4 linked regions of the Homo sapiens genome follow. The protein of the gene in region 3 interacts with the protein of the main gene of each other region in a biochemical or structural test. Each region holds a gene or a part of one and is shown on either strand. Other genes may lie near its edges.

Evidence for each region.
Region 1: the proteins of UBE2O (region 3) and RECQL4 form a complex in vitro, tested with the Homo sapiens proteins (one study listed by BioGRID).
Region 2: the proteins of UBE2O (region 3) and PRKN form a complex in vitro, tested with the Homo sapiens proteins (one study listed by BioGRID).
Region 4: the proteins of UBE2O (region 3) and MXI1 form a complex in vitro, tested with the Homo sapiens proteins (one study listed by BioGRID).

The regions. Positions count from the first base shown.
Region 1 is NC_000008.11:144,510,635-144,515,106, forward strand, and holds the end of RECQL4 (ATP-dependent DNA helicase Q4), read right to left. Parts: intron 4,439-4,472; coding exon 4,302-4,438; intron 3,892-4,301; coding exon 3,808-3,891; intron 3,729-3,807; coding exon 3,555-3,728; intron 3,474-3,554; coding exon 3,294-3,473; intron 3,079-3,293; coding exon 2,937-3,078; intron 2,847-2,936; coding exon 2,584-2,846; intron 2,505-2,583; coding exon 2,213-2,504; coding exon of another isoform or gene 2,138-2,212; coding exon 2,008-2,137; intron 1,928-2,007; coding exon 1,758-1,927; intron 1,691-1,757; coding exon 1,510-1,690; intron 1,434-1,509; coding exon 1,277-1,433; coding exon of another isoform or gene 1,268-1,276; intron 1,156-1,267; coding exon 1,047-1,155; intron 922-1,046; coding exon 797-921; 3' UTR 654-796; downstream 1-653. Other genes in the region: SLC33A2 (major facilitator superfamily domain-containing protein 3), read left to right, coding at 1-88, 160-530. UniProt on the Homo sapiens protein: An ATP-dependent DNA helicase which unwinds dsDNA with a 3'-overhang in a 3'-5' direction. Does not unwind more than 18 bp of dsDNA. May modulate chromosome segregation. The N-terminal domain (residues 1-54) binds DNA Y-shaped DNA better than ss- or dsDNA.
Region 2 is NC_000006.12:161,349,551-161,352,901, forward strand, and holds part of PRKN (E3 ubiquitin-protein ligase parkin), read right to left. Parts: intron 662-3,351; coding exon 549-661; 3' UTR 1-548. UniProt on the Homo sapiens protein: Functions within a multiprotein E3 ubiquitin ligase complex, catalyzing the covalent attachment of ubiquitin moieties onto substrate proteins. Substrates include SYT11 and VDAC1.
Region 3 is NC_000017.11:76,446,488-76,450,413, forward strand, and holds part of UBE2O ((E3-independent) E2 ubiquitin-conjugating enzyme), read right to left. Parts: intron 1-3,926. UniProt on the Homo sapiens protein: E2/E3 hybrid ubiquitin-protein ligase that displays both E2 and E3 ligase activities and mediates monoubiquitination of target proteins. Negatively regulates TRAF6-mediated NF-kappa-B activation independently of its E2 activity.
Region 4 is NC_000010.11:110,210,397-110,214,322, forward strand, and holds part of MXI1 (max-interacting protein 1), read left to right. Parts: intron 1-2,471; exon of another isoform or gene 2,472-3,926. UniProt on the Homo sapiens protein: Transcriptional repressor. MXI1 binds with MAX to form a sequence-specific DNA-binding protein complex which recognizes the core sequence 5'-CAC[GA]TG-3'. MXI1 thus antagonizes MYC transcriptional activity by competing for MAX.

The sequences.
Region 1 (4,472 bases), on a different chromosome or scaffold from region 3:
CGCCTCGGGGGCCTAGCCTGTCAGACTGCCTTGGTCTTCCACCTGGACACCCTGGGGGCCAGCATGGACGCTGGCACAATCTTGAGAGGTGAGGGGCTGGCCTTGAGGAGGAAGAGAGGGGCCAGGAGCCTGGGGCACTGCTGACTTCTGCCCTCCCAGGGTCAGCCTTGCTGAGCCTATGTCTGCAGCACTTCTTGGGAGGCCTGGTCACCACAGTCACCTTCACTGGGATGATGCGCTGCAGCCAGCTGGCCCCCAGGGCCCTGCAGGTGAGTAGATGTAGCAGGGACACAAGAGAGACCACGGGGCTGGGGCTGTGTGGGCCTGACCTTGACCGTGACCCCCACCCCCCTCAGGCCACACACTACAGCCTTCTGGCCACGCTGGAGCTGCTGGGGAAGCTGCTGCTGGGCACTCTGGCCGGAGGCCTGGCTGATGGGTTGGGGCCACATCCCTGCTTCTTGCTCCTGCTCATCCTCTCTGCCTTTCCCGTTCTGTACCTGGACCTAGCACCCAGCACCTTTCTCTGAGCTGAGTGGCTGGAGTGGTCAATAAAGCCACATGTGCCTGTGGCCCAGATGTCTCTGTGCCTGGAATATGTGATGTGCTTGTCCCCAGCTTGTGGGGGTTGCCTCATTGGCCAAGAGGGCCCATAAAAACAAAGTGAGCATTTTTTATTCTGCATTTTGGAGCCTCCTCGTTCCCACACCCTGTGGCAGGTTTTGCCCAGGTCCTCAGTCACTGCCCTAGCCTCTGACAACCCCAGCTCTACCCGACATCCCCCAATGCAGTGCAGTCAGCGGGCCACCTGCAGGAGCTCTTCCGTGGCCAGGCCCACCAGGGCATGGAAGCTCAGGTGCAGGTATTTTCTCCAGAAGCGTCGGTCCTGCCCGTACACCTGGGCCGGGTAGCAGGGGCTTCCTACGGTGGAGCCAAGACACAGCCGTGAGCCCCAGCCCCAGCCTGCAGCGGGTGGAGCCTCCCAGGCCTCACCTGCCCCAGCCCCCAGCCCCAGCCTGCAGCGGGTGGGGCCTCCCAGGCCTCACCGATGCCGTGGAAGATGCGGGCCACAGCCCTGCTGGAGAACTTCTCCTCTGGCCTCAGGGACAGGAACTGGCGGATGTCGCAGCGGACCTGGTCCTCCCAATCCTGGAGCTGTGTGGACAGGCACATCAGGCTTCCTCTGAGCTCCCGTGGCACTGCATCCACAGAGCAAGCCCCATGCAGCCCAGGGAACCTGCAACCCCGATGAGCTGCCTGGCCTTACTGCACTCACTCTGGCCTGCCCTGGCTCGGGGCCCTGTGCGTCCTCCATGCCTCCCGGCTCCTGCCCTTCCTCTTCCTCAAAGTAGCGGCCGAGCAGGTCCTTGAGCCTGGTGCTGCGCTCCTCATCCTGCTGCTCCAGGCAGGGCCCGCAGCTGGGGAAGGCTACGCTGTGGGGAGGAGCCTGTCAGAGCTGATCACTGCGGGAGGGTGGATGGTCCCAGGCCCCGCCCGCCTCCTCCCAACCTGTGAAAGGCCTGGAAGGTTCTGCGCAGACGGGCCAGGGCCTGGCGCTCCCGGGCCTGCACACGGCCATAGAGGAAGTCACATATCTGGTCCTTCTCCTCAGCGGTCAAGTCCCCCGGGCTGCGAAGGTGGAAGGCCAGCTCACTGAACTCCACAAGCACCCCTGTCCCACGCCGCACACCTGCCGGAAAGCATGTCAGATGCAGGCAGGCAGCGTCCAGGGCGGTGTGGGGTGGGGAGAGGCGCACCTGTCCTGGGCTCGTGGTCCCACTGCAGCTGGCAGAGAGCCCGCCGCACAGAGGCCAGCTCCCAGCCCATGGAGTCCACCAGCTTGACCATGTCAAACTCCACGGAGCTGCTGCCTTGCCCTGGGTCCTCAGGCAGCTGCTGGGCCAAGCACACAGCCAAAGGGGGACACCTGTGCCCAGGGAAAAAGGGACATGTGGCCAACAGCCCTGATTCTCCAACCTCGTCTCCAACTGGGCAGGGCGTGCTTACCTGTGGGCCAGGGCCTGGAGCTGGGCAGGGCCCCCAGGGCAGTTCAGACGGCAATGGGTATAGGTGGTCGCCAGCAGCTCCAGCCAGTGGTGTGGGTGCAGCTCCAGGTAGCACAGCAAAGTCTCGATGGCTGGGGGCAGAGCAGGGCTCAGCGGACGCGGGGACAGCCCCTCCACACCCCTGTGGCTTACCCCAGGTTCCTCACCCTCCTCCGGCATGTCCAAAGCCTGTACGGTAAGCTGTATTGGGAGTGCCCGCTCATGGCCCATGCAGACCCTTCTGGGTCCTGGGGCTGCTTGGTGGCTAAGCTGCTCAGCCTCTTGAGGGGGGTACTTGGGCACAGGCCTCTCCCCACCCACGGCCCCTTCCTGCTCCGAGGGCGGCCTGGTGCAGGTGCAGGTGCAGGCTGGGAACACGCGCTGTACCAGCCTCTTCACAGCCAGGAAGTCCGTGCTGTCGGCGTGCACATGTCTGCGCAGCTCTCGCAGGTCTTCGCCCTGCAGGGCAACTTTCATGAGGGTGGGGTGGACCACTGGGGGCTCGAGCACTGGCAGTGTGGGGGGGGGGGGTGCCAACCTGGGGCTGCAGGAAGAGGTGGCAGTGGGCAGGCTGCCCGTCACGCCCGGCCCGGCCCACGGCCTGCACGTAGCTCTCGAAGCTTGGGGGCAGCCCCAGATGCAGCACAGCCCGCACATCTGGCCGGTCCAGCCCCATCCCAAAGGCCACCGTGGCCACCACCACCCGCAACTGGCCCTGCATGAAGGCTCGCTGTACCCGCCGCCGTTCCCGGCTGCACATGCCCGCGTGGTAGGCCTCGGCTGTGGTTTTGGGGGCACGACCTTTGGGGAAGACAGGCAGATGGTCAGTGGGATGGGACCATGTGTGCCCAAGGTGGGTCCACGGGGACACCAGCTCTGTCCATGCCGCACCTCCAGACCCTGGGACCCAGGCTGCGTGCAGGCAGGTTCGGAGGAGCGCAGCGATCCGCTCTGTGTCCTCGCGCCGGTTGCAGTAAATGATAATGGAATCGAGGTTTTGAAAACGTTTGCCTTGCAGCAGCGTCAACAGTGCCTGATGAGGAGCGGTTGGCGTGGGCAGTGGGGAGTGAGGAGGGGTCGGCGTGTGCAGTGGGGAGTGAGGAGGGGTCGGCGTGGGGAGTGAGGAGGGGTCGGCGTGGGCGGTGGGGAGTGAGAAGGGGTCGGCGTGGGCGGTGGGGAGTGAGGAGGGGTCGGCGTGGGCAGTCAGCAGCCAGGGCCCTGCAGGGTCCCCAGAGCACACACACCCACCTGGTCTGTGTCCCTGTCCATGGACACGGAAAGGTGCAGGTTGGTGGGAACTGGGGCTGGCCCGTGGAGGTCAGGCTCTTCAGCCACAGCCAGGTGCTGTGCCACGTCACTGGCAGTGCGGCGTGTGGCTGTGGCTGTGAGGCCCAGGAAGCAGTGCACGCCCATGCGCTCCCGAAGCACCTGCACCAGAGGCGGCAGTGGTGTGAGGCCGCCCAGCCCATCCCGGCCCTGGCCGCCCACCCCAGTTCACATATGGCTCACCTTGCAGACGCGCAGGTAGCAGGGCCGGAAGTTGTGGGACCACTGGGAGAGGCAGTGGGCCTCATCAATGCAGGCAAAAGCAACTGGAGGCAGCTGTGCGGCTGGAGGGAGGCCTCCCGCCCCCACCAGTGCCTCAGGTGTCAGCATCAGCACGTGTACCTGGGCTGCCCGAATCTGAAGGCAGCAAGATCAGAGGCACAGCCCAGGTGCCCGCCCGCTGCCTCCCTCACCCCTAGGCCCATGAGGCCCCCACCTTCTGCAGGACAGATTCCCGTTGCTTCCTGGTCATGCCCGAGTGTATGCAGGCCGCCTTGAGACACGGTGGCAGGCCAGACACCTGCAAATGCAGGAGCGACAGCCGTCATACGCCAGCCCAGCCCTGGCCCTTCCCCAAGTCATCCCAGAGCTGCTGCCATGTCCATCCTAGTCCCTCAGGGGAGAGGAGAACCAGGTCCTGGGTCCTAGGGCTAAGGGTTTAGAGCCACCTGTGGGCCTTGGCCCAGGAGCCCCAGAGCAGACAGACTGAAGTAGGGATGGCTCCTTTCCCAGCACATTTCCCGTAGGGGTGGCTGTGGTGCCTGTGGAGCTGGGCTGCCTTTGACCTGCTGCCAAGACTGGGACTGAGGCCACAGACACCTTGAAGCTCCCAGGGGAGGGGGTGGTTAGGGGACAAGCAGCAGTTGCCCTTGGGAGTCACAAGTGCTGGTTCTTGGCTGTGTACGTGTGCCCAGGGCCCTGTGTGCACACCTGGTCATCCATGAGTGACAGCAGGGGAGAGACGACCAACGTGAGGCAGGGGCTGCGCCGGCTGTAGAGCAGCGCTGGGAGCTGGTAGCACAGGGACTTGCCGGCACCTGTAGGCAGCACCAGCAGCGTGGAGATGCCTGGATGGGGCGGGAGTCAGCAGCAGGGTTCTGC
Region 2 (3,351 bases), on a different chromosome or scaffold from region 3:
GAAAATTTAAATAAGAACATTACTGTTAAAGCCATGAATCTAGTTTGGAGAACCCACTGCAGTTCATTTTACAGAGAAACACCTTGTCAATGGCATCTTCATGGTGTTTACTGAAGGTAAAAGGCAGGATATTAAATGTGAGAACTCTCTCTCCAGCTACTGATTCTGCCTGTCTCGAATTCAGGTGAGAATGACCCATACAGATACATGGATTGCACTTGAATCTGTGCTCTGGTATTTGTGTCATCCGGAGGCTGAGAACGCCTGTTGGTGGTGTCGCAGATGGCTCTGCTGTCTTGTGTGGACAAACTGAAAGGGATTCAGGAGCTTCTTCTGTAATTTTACTCTGCTGTTTTTCATGGACATAGTGAAAGGGATCCAGGAGTTTCTTCTGCAATTTGGCTGTAGTTGGACTTTGAAAAAAACTTGAAGAGTGTGTGTGCGCGCGCGCGCGTGTGTGTGTGTGTTTGAAAAGAGAATTAGAAAATGAAGGTAGACACTGGGTATGCTCCCCCAGGATGTGGCGATGGGGCGCCCGGCCGCCCTGGCTACACGTCGAACCAGTGGTCCCCCATGCAGACGCGGTTCCACTCGCAGCCACAGTTCCAGCACCACTCGAGCCTGCACTGGGGCTGCGGACACTTCATGTGCATGCAGCCTCCTGTTGGGGGCAGAAAACAAAGGTGTGGTGGGTTCGCAGCAAGTACCTGGAAAACACGCATTCCCAAACCAGCACGCTAGCCTAGACATCACTTTCTGAGCGAATAATCACAAGCAATACAAGGGCAGAGAGAAACTTAACTGAGGGGAAAAACTTCATAAAGCACAATAGGGCAGCTCTAAAGTGATGATATTCATTAAGAAATGAATGAAATTGAAGCATGTCACTTTTGTCGGGAACAAATTTTATTTGTAAATCTGACTTTATTCTCCTGAAAGGGGATTTAGAGACAAACACTTCATGTTTCATAGATAGGGGTCAATTCCTCATTTAAATATATTCAAATATTAATATATTTATATTTAAAATATATAAATATATTTTTATATATTTATATTTAAAATATATATATTTTTATATATTTATATTTAAAATATATATATTTTTATATATTTATATTTAAAATATATATATTTTTATATATTTATATTTAAAATATATATATTTTTATATATTTATATTTAAAATATATATATTTTTATATATTTATATTTAAAATATATATATTTTTATATATTTATATTTAAAATATATATATTTTTATATATTTATATTTAAAATATATATATTTTTATATATTTATATTTAAAATATATATATTTTTATATATTTATATTTAAAATATATATAAATATATTTTATATATTTATATTTAAAATATATATAAATATATTTTATATATTTATATTTAAAATATATATAAATATATTTTATATATTTATATTTAAAATATATATAAATATATTTTATATATTTATATTTAAAATATATATAAATATATTTTATATATTTATATTTAAAATATATATAAATATATTTTTATATATTTATATTTAAAATATATATAAATATATTTTTATATATTTATATTTAAAATATATATAAATATATTTATATTTAAATATATTGATAAAATTTGATGATATAACCTAATATAATGTATAATAATTTAAATATATTTTGATTTATTTTTGCTCTTTCTATAGTGCCACTTACTTGGCTTGGCCAAATTCATAAAACAGGAACTGGGATAGCATATTGTAATTATTATTATTTCTATTTTTTTTTTTGAGATGGAGTTTTGCTCTTGTCGTCCAGGCTGGAGTGCAGTGGCGAGATCTTGGCTCACTGCAACCCCCACCTCCCAGGTTCAAGTGATTCTCTGGCCTCAGCCTCCCGAGTAGCTGGGATTACAGGCGCCCACCAACATGCCCAGCTAATTTTTGAATTTTTCGTAGAGACAGGGTTTTGCCATGTTGGCCAGGCTGGTCTCAAACTCCTGACCTCAAGTCATCCTCCCGCCTCGGCCTCCCAAAGTGCTGGGATTACAGGCGTGAGCTACCGCACCCAGCCAGCATATTATTTTTAATAGGGAATATGTTCCTTAATGCTATCCAAAATTTTAATTAAGATGAGAGGGATAGAAAGGAAGTAATTAATAATGCTAGGTGTTCTATGTATATTATCTCATTTGCTTCCCAAAGCACTTTGAGATAAGAGCATCACTCTGCTATAGAATTTCCCCAAGGTGAAGCACTTTTAAATGGTGAAGACAATGATCTCACCAAGGTCTGTGTGATTCCAATGTCCTGTCATTCACAGAACAGGTTATTTTCAGCATAAGAGGAAAAGTCCCTTATCTTGGAACTTATTTTGGAATTATTCACCTCCCTCACTTGTTAAACATAGACTCCATGAGTTTCTGGAGTGCACACAGCCCTGCTTCAGTCGCTGTGGGGGAACTGAAGGGAGGAGGAAGTGATTTGTATGAGGATGTACAGAGAACTGTTTCTGTCCAAATTTCCTGGAAAACCCCGGCAAACGCAGTTTCTTTGCTTGAATCCCACCTAGCGTTGAAGGTGCTCCATTACTCACTCTTACCAATTATCTTGTTAATTGATTTTTCCTGCCAAATTTTCCAAGTAATTGGTTCGGTGCTGTCTCACTTTTATTATTAGAAACCTGGCATGAGAACTTTCACTAATTTAAAATATTTATGAATATATAGGAATAGGCATTTGTTTTAAGATAACTTGCCGACATGCAAAATCTCCTGTTTTCCTAATCCTTTCTGGCTTGTTTTAAAGATCATAAATTACAGATCTGTGGAAAATAAAGGAGAAAACTTACAACACTTTTATCTTCATACTTTCCACTTAGGTTTGTGCCATTTTCAGCACATATTGCATGGTTGTATATTTATGATGTAAATAATATGTTATATGGTGTGACATTATAAAACCACTTGTTTCTCTAAAATATCATAAATATTTTATCATATCATAAATATATCATTATTATATCATGTATCGTAAAATATATTCAATCAAAATTATTGAGCAATACATTAAAACTTAATGAACTATTAAAGCAATTCTAAATGAAAGGGTAAGAAACTTTCCTATTGTGATATTTAATATATATAAGCATATATAAACACAAATATGTATGAAGAGTGTGTGTGTGTGTGTGTGTGTGTGTGTGTATATATATATATATATTTTATTTTATTTTATTTTATTTTTTTGAGATGGAGTCTCGCTCTGTCGCCCAGGCTGGAGTACAGGGCGCGATCTGGGCTCACTGCCACCTCTGCCTCCCGGGTTCAAGCAATTCTCCTGCCTCAGCCT
Region 3 (3,926 bases):
CAGAGAGAAACAGGGATAAAAGTGAAGTAGAGATGGGGAAGGTGCAAAGAGGCCTCTAATGTCCTAAAGCAAAAACACACGGAAACTGAAGGGAACAGAAACTGAAATTGAGGTGGAACTCAGCCTCTCCAAGGAATCCTTCCTGAACCTGTCTCATGACTCAGCATTCCCAGCCGAAGGATGACAGCAGCAGAGCGGACAGGAGGTCAAGTTGGAGCTCCTAATGGAGCTGACCACTTCTGAGGCAACACAGAAATGCCAGTTACGTGGAGTGTCTGCACACTTGTTTTGCTCTAGGAGGTGGAGTTGGGGAATAAAACTGAACTGCAGTTCAGTGTTGGAATGAATCAGACTACAGAGGTTGCTTCATTCAACATTGAGGGGCAGTCAAAGGTTCTCTAGAAATGCAATGTGTTTTTGACAGTTATTTTGAGAATGACTGAGGGGTCAGGGAATGAAAAGAGTGGAATCTGCAGAAGCACACCGCCAGTGCGAATGCAGTGTTCCTCCCGTCCTGCTCCCTACCCATCATCTCCCTCCCTCCTGCCTGCCCACTGGCACAACTTCCACCTATCCCAACATCCTGTGCCTCTCTCCTTCCTCACTTGTAGTACCTCCTATTACACTAAGACTTTCAACTGTTTAAAGAAGGGATGATTAATGCCAACCACAAGGCTTGTGATTCATGTTGGATCAGGGCACTCGGTCACGTATAGTAATGATCTCTGAATCCTGAACTTAAGTATTCTCAGGTGAGAACAAAGTACATTTAGTTCAATTTGTATTCAGATTCCTCCACTTAGAAGTGTGACACTGGGCAATTTACTTAACCTCTCTGTTCCTCAGCTTCCTTCTCTGGAATATGGGGCTAATAATAGCACCACAGGGTTGTTGTGAGCGTGAAGTAAAACATCTAAAGCACTAAGAGTGCCTGGCACACAGTAACAGTATCCTGGATCATGACTGCTCTTATTACCTTAAAATATAAAGCAATACTCTATCATCTTTGTAATTTATAATCTCATTACCAGTCTTGAGAATTTCAAGAGACCTTTCAGACTCTGGAAACATACATACATACATACAGATTCATTCCATCCCCCTCCTGGAGGACGGCCGGGGTTACTTTAAATGTGCATTACTGAATTTCTCACAAAGTAACAGAGGTAGGAAGTTCATGAGTATTTCTAGAAGAGGTTTAATAAAGTCAAACCTATAATCCATCTGGTCACTAGCAACACGAGCCATTAGGAATTCCTATGCCCCTGAAACAACCACCTTCCCCACAACCCGCCTCGTGCACCTTTTGCTTCCCAAGGTGCCTCTTTGGTGCAGCATCACCCTCTTTCTCATGGAAGTGATCTTCTGAAGGCACAGGGCTGGCTCTCTCTGACAGACATCAGAATGCTGTCTGCTAATAACCAAGTGGCCATCCTAGGCTTGACCCAGCTACACTTCTGGTTATTCCATCCGAGCAGGATCATATCGGGGTTAGGAAGATAGACCTCTTATTTCATTGCAGAGGGAGAAAATGAGGCAGTGACTTGGTCAAGGTCATTCAGAGTAGGTGACAGCCAGGAAGAGCACCCAAGGGTTTTGGCTTCCAATCACAGTACAAAACACACACCCTTCATCTGGGGAAAGTACCCTTGAGTCAGGCAGCAGCCAGACAGAAGCACCATCAGGGCACTGAGGCCCGAGGGCTAGAAGGGGAAAAATCAAGGGACAAAGAATAAAATCACAGAACAGCTGTTAAGAGTCTACAAGTGCTGTGATCCTATCTGAATAAAACGCAATTTAGATTCACTTAGTCCTGCATCTTGGTTAACCTTATATAACTTCTTCACATTACATCACTAAGAACAATTGCTTTTAATGGGCCCAGCACCCAGACAAGTGAGACAAACTTCACGTGCCATGATGCTACACCTAAATAGCTTTCCCCATGGAAATGCTGGCCAGCGTAGGAGCCAAAAATAAACTGCAAAGCCAATTCCCGAGGGACCTGTCATCAGGGATGTTTCACACACACAGCTTCATAAAAGCAGGGTGATCACAGACAGCCCTAATTTAGAGGCACTATATCTCAAACCTGGTGAAACCCTGAATGTCATGGCAACTTAAAACAAAAGACAATGCAAAAGAGATGAAAAAGCACAAGAAAGCTAAAGCATAAACGCTTTGCCTCCGAAACGAAGGCTGAACTTGAACTGACAGACAGCAGTCCTGCTCCCTTACCTCGCAGGGGGCTGTTCTGCCCAACCATGACAGGTGGAGACCAGAAGGACCCACCACGTCTAGCCAGTGCTCATGAAGGTTTAAGTGGCTGCTGGCATTTGGCTTTGTTACAAAATTTTATTCAAAGGATGACTGGTGATGGGGAAGGGGCAAGCCTCCTCTAAGGAGATCCATGGCCAGATGGACAGTTTCAAGTGGCTACCTCGCTGAACAGGTCAGAAGACTGGAGAAAGGAAGAAGCATATAAGAGACACTGGCCACTAGCTCCTTTTGAGTCCTTAAGAGGCTTAATTTTGGTGGCTGGAAGCCTCAGGAACACGACAAATTCCATAGCTTCATGGAAGAACTTACTTTGTTTCTGTTGCTATTTTCATGAAGGCAGCAGGGAAAGGACATGACTTGCTGCCCAGTCTCTTCATCTCTCTTTGTAAATTTGTTCACTAAAAACTTGAGACTAAGATTAAGCCTTTACTCATTGCCCTCCAATTTACAGAGAAAACTACAAAAATACGCCACACCCTATGAAACACTCCACATTAAATAGATACTACTAAAAAATTTCAATGGGGCAAGGCACTGTGGCTTATGCCTGTAATTCCAGCACTTGGGGAGGCCAAGGCCGGTGAATCACTTGAGGCCAGAAGTTCAAGACCAGCCTGGCCAAAATGGCAAACTGCCGTCTCTACTAAAAATACAAAAATTAGCTGGGTGTGATGGCGCATGCCCATAATCCCAGCTATGCGGGAGGCTGAGGCACAAGAATCACTTGAACCCGGGAAGTTGAGGTTGTAATGAGCTGAGATCGTGCCACTGCACTCCAGCCTGGGTGACAGAGAGAGACTCTGTTTAAAAAAGAAACTCACACACAAAAATTTTCAATAGGTAGCAGCTTATTAAAAAAAATAAGTTTCGGGCGGGTGCGGTGGCTCCTGCCTGTAATCCCAGCACTTTGGGAGGCCGAGGCGGGCGGATCACCTGAGGTCAGGAGTTCAAGAACAGCCTGGCCACCACGGAGAAACCCCGTCTCCACTAAAAATACAAAAAATTAGCCGGGCGTGATGGCGTATGCCTGTAATCCCAGCTACTCGGGAGGCTGAGGTAGGAGAATCGCTTGAACCCGGGAGGCAGAGGTTGCGGTGAGCCGAGCTGGCGCCATTGCACTCCAGCCTGGGCAACAAGAGCAAAACTCCGTCTCAAAAACATAAATAAATAAAAAATAAGTTTCTCAAAACCATCACTACTGTAGTCCCAGCTACCTGGGAGGCTGAGGCAGGAGGATTGTGTGAGACCAGGAATTCAAGGACACCTGAGTAACAGTGAGACCCCATCCCAAAAATAATAAACAAACCAGTAACTCAAAAAAAAAAAAAAATCTGCCACTACATTATTTTGTCAATAATTGGGTTCTCAAATCTCATAACTAGATTAGTCAATCTTGGTCTAATGGTCTTTCCTTTACGGCATACTATCACCTTGATGGAATTCATAAGGAGCAGGAGGTGAGAAGAAAAATCATCCTAAGCCACAGTTCTGCAAGGTCCCAGGACCCACCCTACCACCCTGCTTGGTGGTCAGTAACAGACCAGGAGACATTCAGCTAATCAGTCACCTGTATCTATAGCTCATGGTAACAGAGCTACCTATCAGGTATAAACTCCACCCTCCAAAACAAACCTATTCTAAATCCT
Region 4 (3,926 bases), on a different chromosome or scaffold from region 3:
TTTCGCCGCTGCTGTTTGGCTCTAAATGACGTGATGCCAACGGCCCCCAGATTTCCCCGAGAGCTTGGGGCGCCGCGCCGTGCCCAGTTTGGCTGCAGAGACCCCGCTCCAGGCCCTCGCCCCGTCCCCAACAGCTCGAACAGGCTGGGGTGACCTCCGGCAAACTCCGTGCGACCATCCGCCAGGCCCTCTGTTATCCCCCTTGCAAAGAGAAGCGGTCCACGGGGGCCACTTTATCCCACCCCCTCTCCTCCCCTCCTCCTGCCCGGTCTAGGTCTCTGGGTACGGAAAACGGCGGGCCCTACATCTGCCTCGTTTTATGGGGGGCGCTTCTTCGCGCTGGCGGCGCTCGTCGTTGTTTTCTGCTCGCTGCACACAATGCCCGCGCGTCACGGCAATCCGCGTGTGCACAGCAATAACGCGAGTCGGGGGGCGGGTCGTGCGTGCGCCCGGCTCGGGCACTGCGGGTCGCTCGGCGCGCGCGGGGCTTGTTTTGCTCCAGAGCTCTGCTTTCCGAAACGCTTACATCATTCAGTCGTTGGGGGAGGGAGAGGGATCTGGGCGTTCCGATAGGATTCCAGCATCTACCGGGTCCCTGGTTTCTGGAAGGAAGCAGGGACCCTAGCTTTTTAGTAGTTATTATTGGGGGTGGGGTTGGGTAGTTTGTTGTGTACGTCTTTTTTTTTTTTTTTTTCGGTCACTACTGCAAAAGGGCATCGTTGGCCGACTCAGGTGCACAACCTCCCCGCCTTCATTTCAGCGAGTTCCCCTATAATCACTTGATCTCGGTTTCTCCGCCTTCTCCTCCTCCCCCTCCCAGCTAGAGACACATGGTTTCCACATGGAGACAAACTTCTTTCCTCCGACTGGACTTGACCTAGCTGCGTCGTTCAGCCAATCGGCAGCTCCAGCCTCTTCTGACGTCACGCGTTGCTGGGGCCGGAGGCTGGGTGGGGGGTGGAGCCAGGCTGCAAGCCAGGAAATCTCTGGGAGCTGTAGTGCGGCCAGCTGGTCCAGTCTCTTCTTAAAGGGACGCTCTTCTGTCCGGAGATGAGTGTCGGGCCCCGATTCTCCATTTCGGGTTCGGTGAGACCTTTCTGAGATGCATGGTGGACCCTGGTCACGAGTTAACACGTTCCGTTTTTACTGCTGTTTGCGAAGTACTTACTTGGCAGGAGCTTGCCTTATTTTCCATCGTAGCCAGAACTGCTTTTCGTTCCCTTGTTGAGGTTTCCGTACTGGTAGTGTTCACCAAGTTGTGGCCACATGGCTGAATTACTTCCAGTGGAGAGGTTGAGTTTTCTTGGAGGAGGGGTTCAAATTAAGTCACATTGTTGACTGTCTGCTGTGTGCAAGGCAGGGGGGATTCCCTAGGAAAGGCAGGTACATTCTCCCAAAACTCCAACTGATGTGAATCTCTACGGATCACAAATTGAAGGCCTCCAGAAATATTAATCATGAAGGCTGTGATCCTATTACCACAAATTCAGAAATTATATGTAAATAATCTCTGACATCATCACCTATATGCATTTTGAGTCCAGTGGAAGGGTGGGAATTAAGGACTGACTAATAAGTAGAAAAAGATCTTGGAAAAGGTTAAAACTAAAAGAGAAGAACAGATCCATAAAGGGATGTTATGTGCATAAGAGCCGACTGGCAGGTAAGTGAAACAAGCTGTGAGAGCAGGTAAGGTCTGGAGGAGAGAAATGGGCTTCCTAGTGTCTGGAGGAGGTTGCTTTGGAGGCAACACTTAAGATAGGGAAGGACGATCAGATGAGAGTAGAAAGCCATAAGGCTCCTTGGAGTGGATCACCTGGGTTTGAGGGTGGGGTGCTTTCCTAGGGGCACGGACAGCCCAAGAAACAGCCTGTTCCTCCTGGTAGAGGAAGCTGCTGTTGTGTGGTGTCATTTGGCCCCACCCTGCCTTCTGACTTAATCTCCTCTTCCTTGCCCTGAAACCTCTGTGTCTGTACAGCAGATCCACCAGCAAGCAGGCTTCACAGTCGAACCTCTGTGCTCGACTTAGACTCTTCCACTGTCTAGAATGCTTTCATTCTCTTACTCCCCTAGGGATATCTGTATCCTACCTTCTCTTCAAGACTTAGATCAGTTTCCACCTCCTCCAGGAAGCTTCCCCTAGCTATTTCAGCCCATTTGGCTCTATTTGTTAAGTCATTGTACTTGAGAGAATGAAACCTTTGCAGTCACATGGAGCAGGGCCCAGCTTGCTACTCTACTGCTTACTGGCTTTGTGACTTTGGACACAACTTACTTAGCCTGAGGTTCCATTTCCTTTTTGCAAAATGGGGATAACAATAGTATGACCCTCATATCATTGTCAAACAACTCAATGAGGCACTGCACTTAAATATTTAACGTACCTGAGATATAATAGGTGCTCAATAAATAGCAACTTCTCTGAGCTTTGATAATCAGTACCATGCACTTCTCTACTTGCTTCCTGTGTGTTAGCTTTACCTTTACAAGGAGTTTATTAGTAACTTAAGAGAAAAGATCACTTACAGTATTCAATGCATGTTACCCATTGCATATAGCACACCACTGGGCATACAGTAGTAGATCCTTAATATAAATGTTTTGATTGGTTAGATTTGTCATTTACTGCTAGCTATGGCACGAGGATCAGGTTTGGAGGCCAGGGGACACGTGACAGCCTTTCCGAAGATTTGGAGACGAGTCAGAAATACTGATCTCCAACTCCCTTGGGTGGTGAGACCAATCCCTGCAAGAAGATGATAGTTCAGACCTGAAGAGCTGAGACTGCATCCTGTGAACAGCTGTGACCCTGAGAAACAAATAAGAAAGAAGGAGACTAGAGTGACTTCTGCTGAAATCGAGGGCTTTGATGGCAACTAATGTTCAAGCTGGTCACGTTTTTGCATGGCAGCAATCTTATGAATTCATACATTCTTCAAATGTACATTGAATGTCTACTATGTGCAGATGCTTCTTTCTGAAAACTCTGTAGGTTGAAGTATGGTGGGGGTGGAGTAGGGTATTTGTCTTTAGTGGAGTTATGTGAAGAGCATTCTTAAATCAGGCCCTATTTCCTCTGCATCCCAAATTATGTTCCCCAGATTCAACTTATTTTTTCCAGTTTTAAATATGATCTCTGCTGACTGGTAAATACCAGAAGAAGGCTTTTTTGAGGATATTGTTACGGCTTTCAGAATCACGGAGCTCCCAAGGACTGTGTGTCCTGGAAAGGAGATCCAGGGAAAGGGGACAGGGCCTTGGAAGTTAGAGAAGTTGAATTGAGCCATTCCTGGTTTGGGAGCAAAAAGGAGGCTCCATTAGCTACCAAGGCAAAACAGTAGCTGCTCATCCATCTCTCATCTCTGATGGAAACAGTCTCCCACTGACACATCCAGAAATGGGGATTCATCTGGAGATGCCTGGGCAAAAGTCTAGAGGTGAAACTGAGGAAAATGAAGAGGGTGCTGGCGTGCAGCAGCAGCAACTAATTGTATGGCATAATATCAATAATGGCTACAATTTATTGAACACTGACTATATTCCAAGTATGGGGCTATGCATTCATTATCTCCCCTGATCTTCACAACAACCTTCTGATGGATGCAATTTTATTACCCTCTTTTACGGAGGAGGGAACTGAGGAGCAGGGATGCCAGGTAATTTGCCCAAAGGATATATAGCTAGTAAGTCGCGGAGCTGAGTTTTGAACTTAGGCCTCTGATTCCAGAGCCTGTGCTCTTAACCATATACACATGTACTCATTTCACAGCCAAGGAATGAAGTCCAGAGAAGTGAAATGACTTACTCAAGGTCACCCAGGAACCTGAAGCAGAGCTGGTATTTGAAACACCTTGTTTATTGTCCAAGGTCTTCCTGCACACACCTTGCTTAGAAAAGGTTTCGAAGTGAGGCTGGAGTCAGAAGAG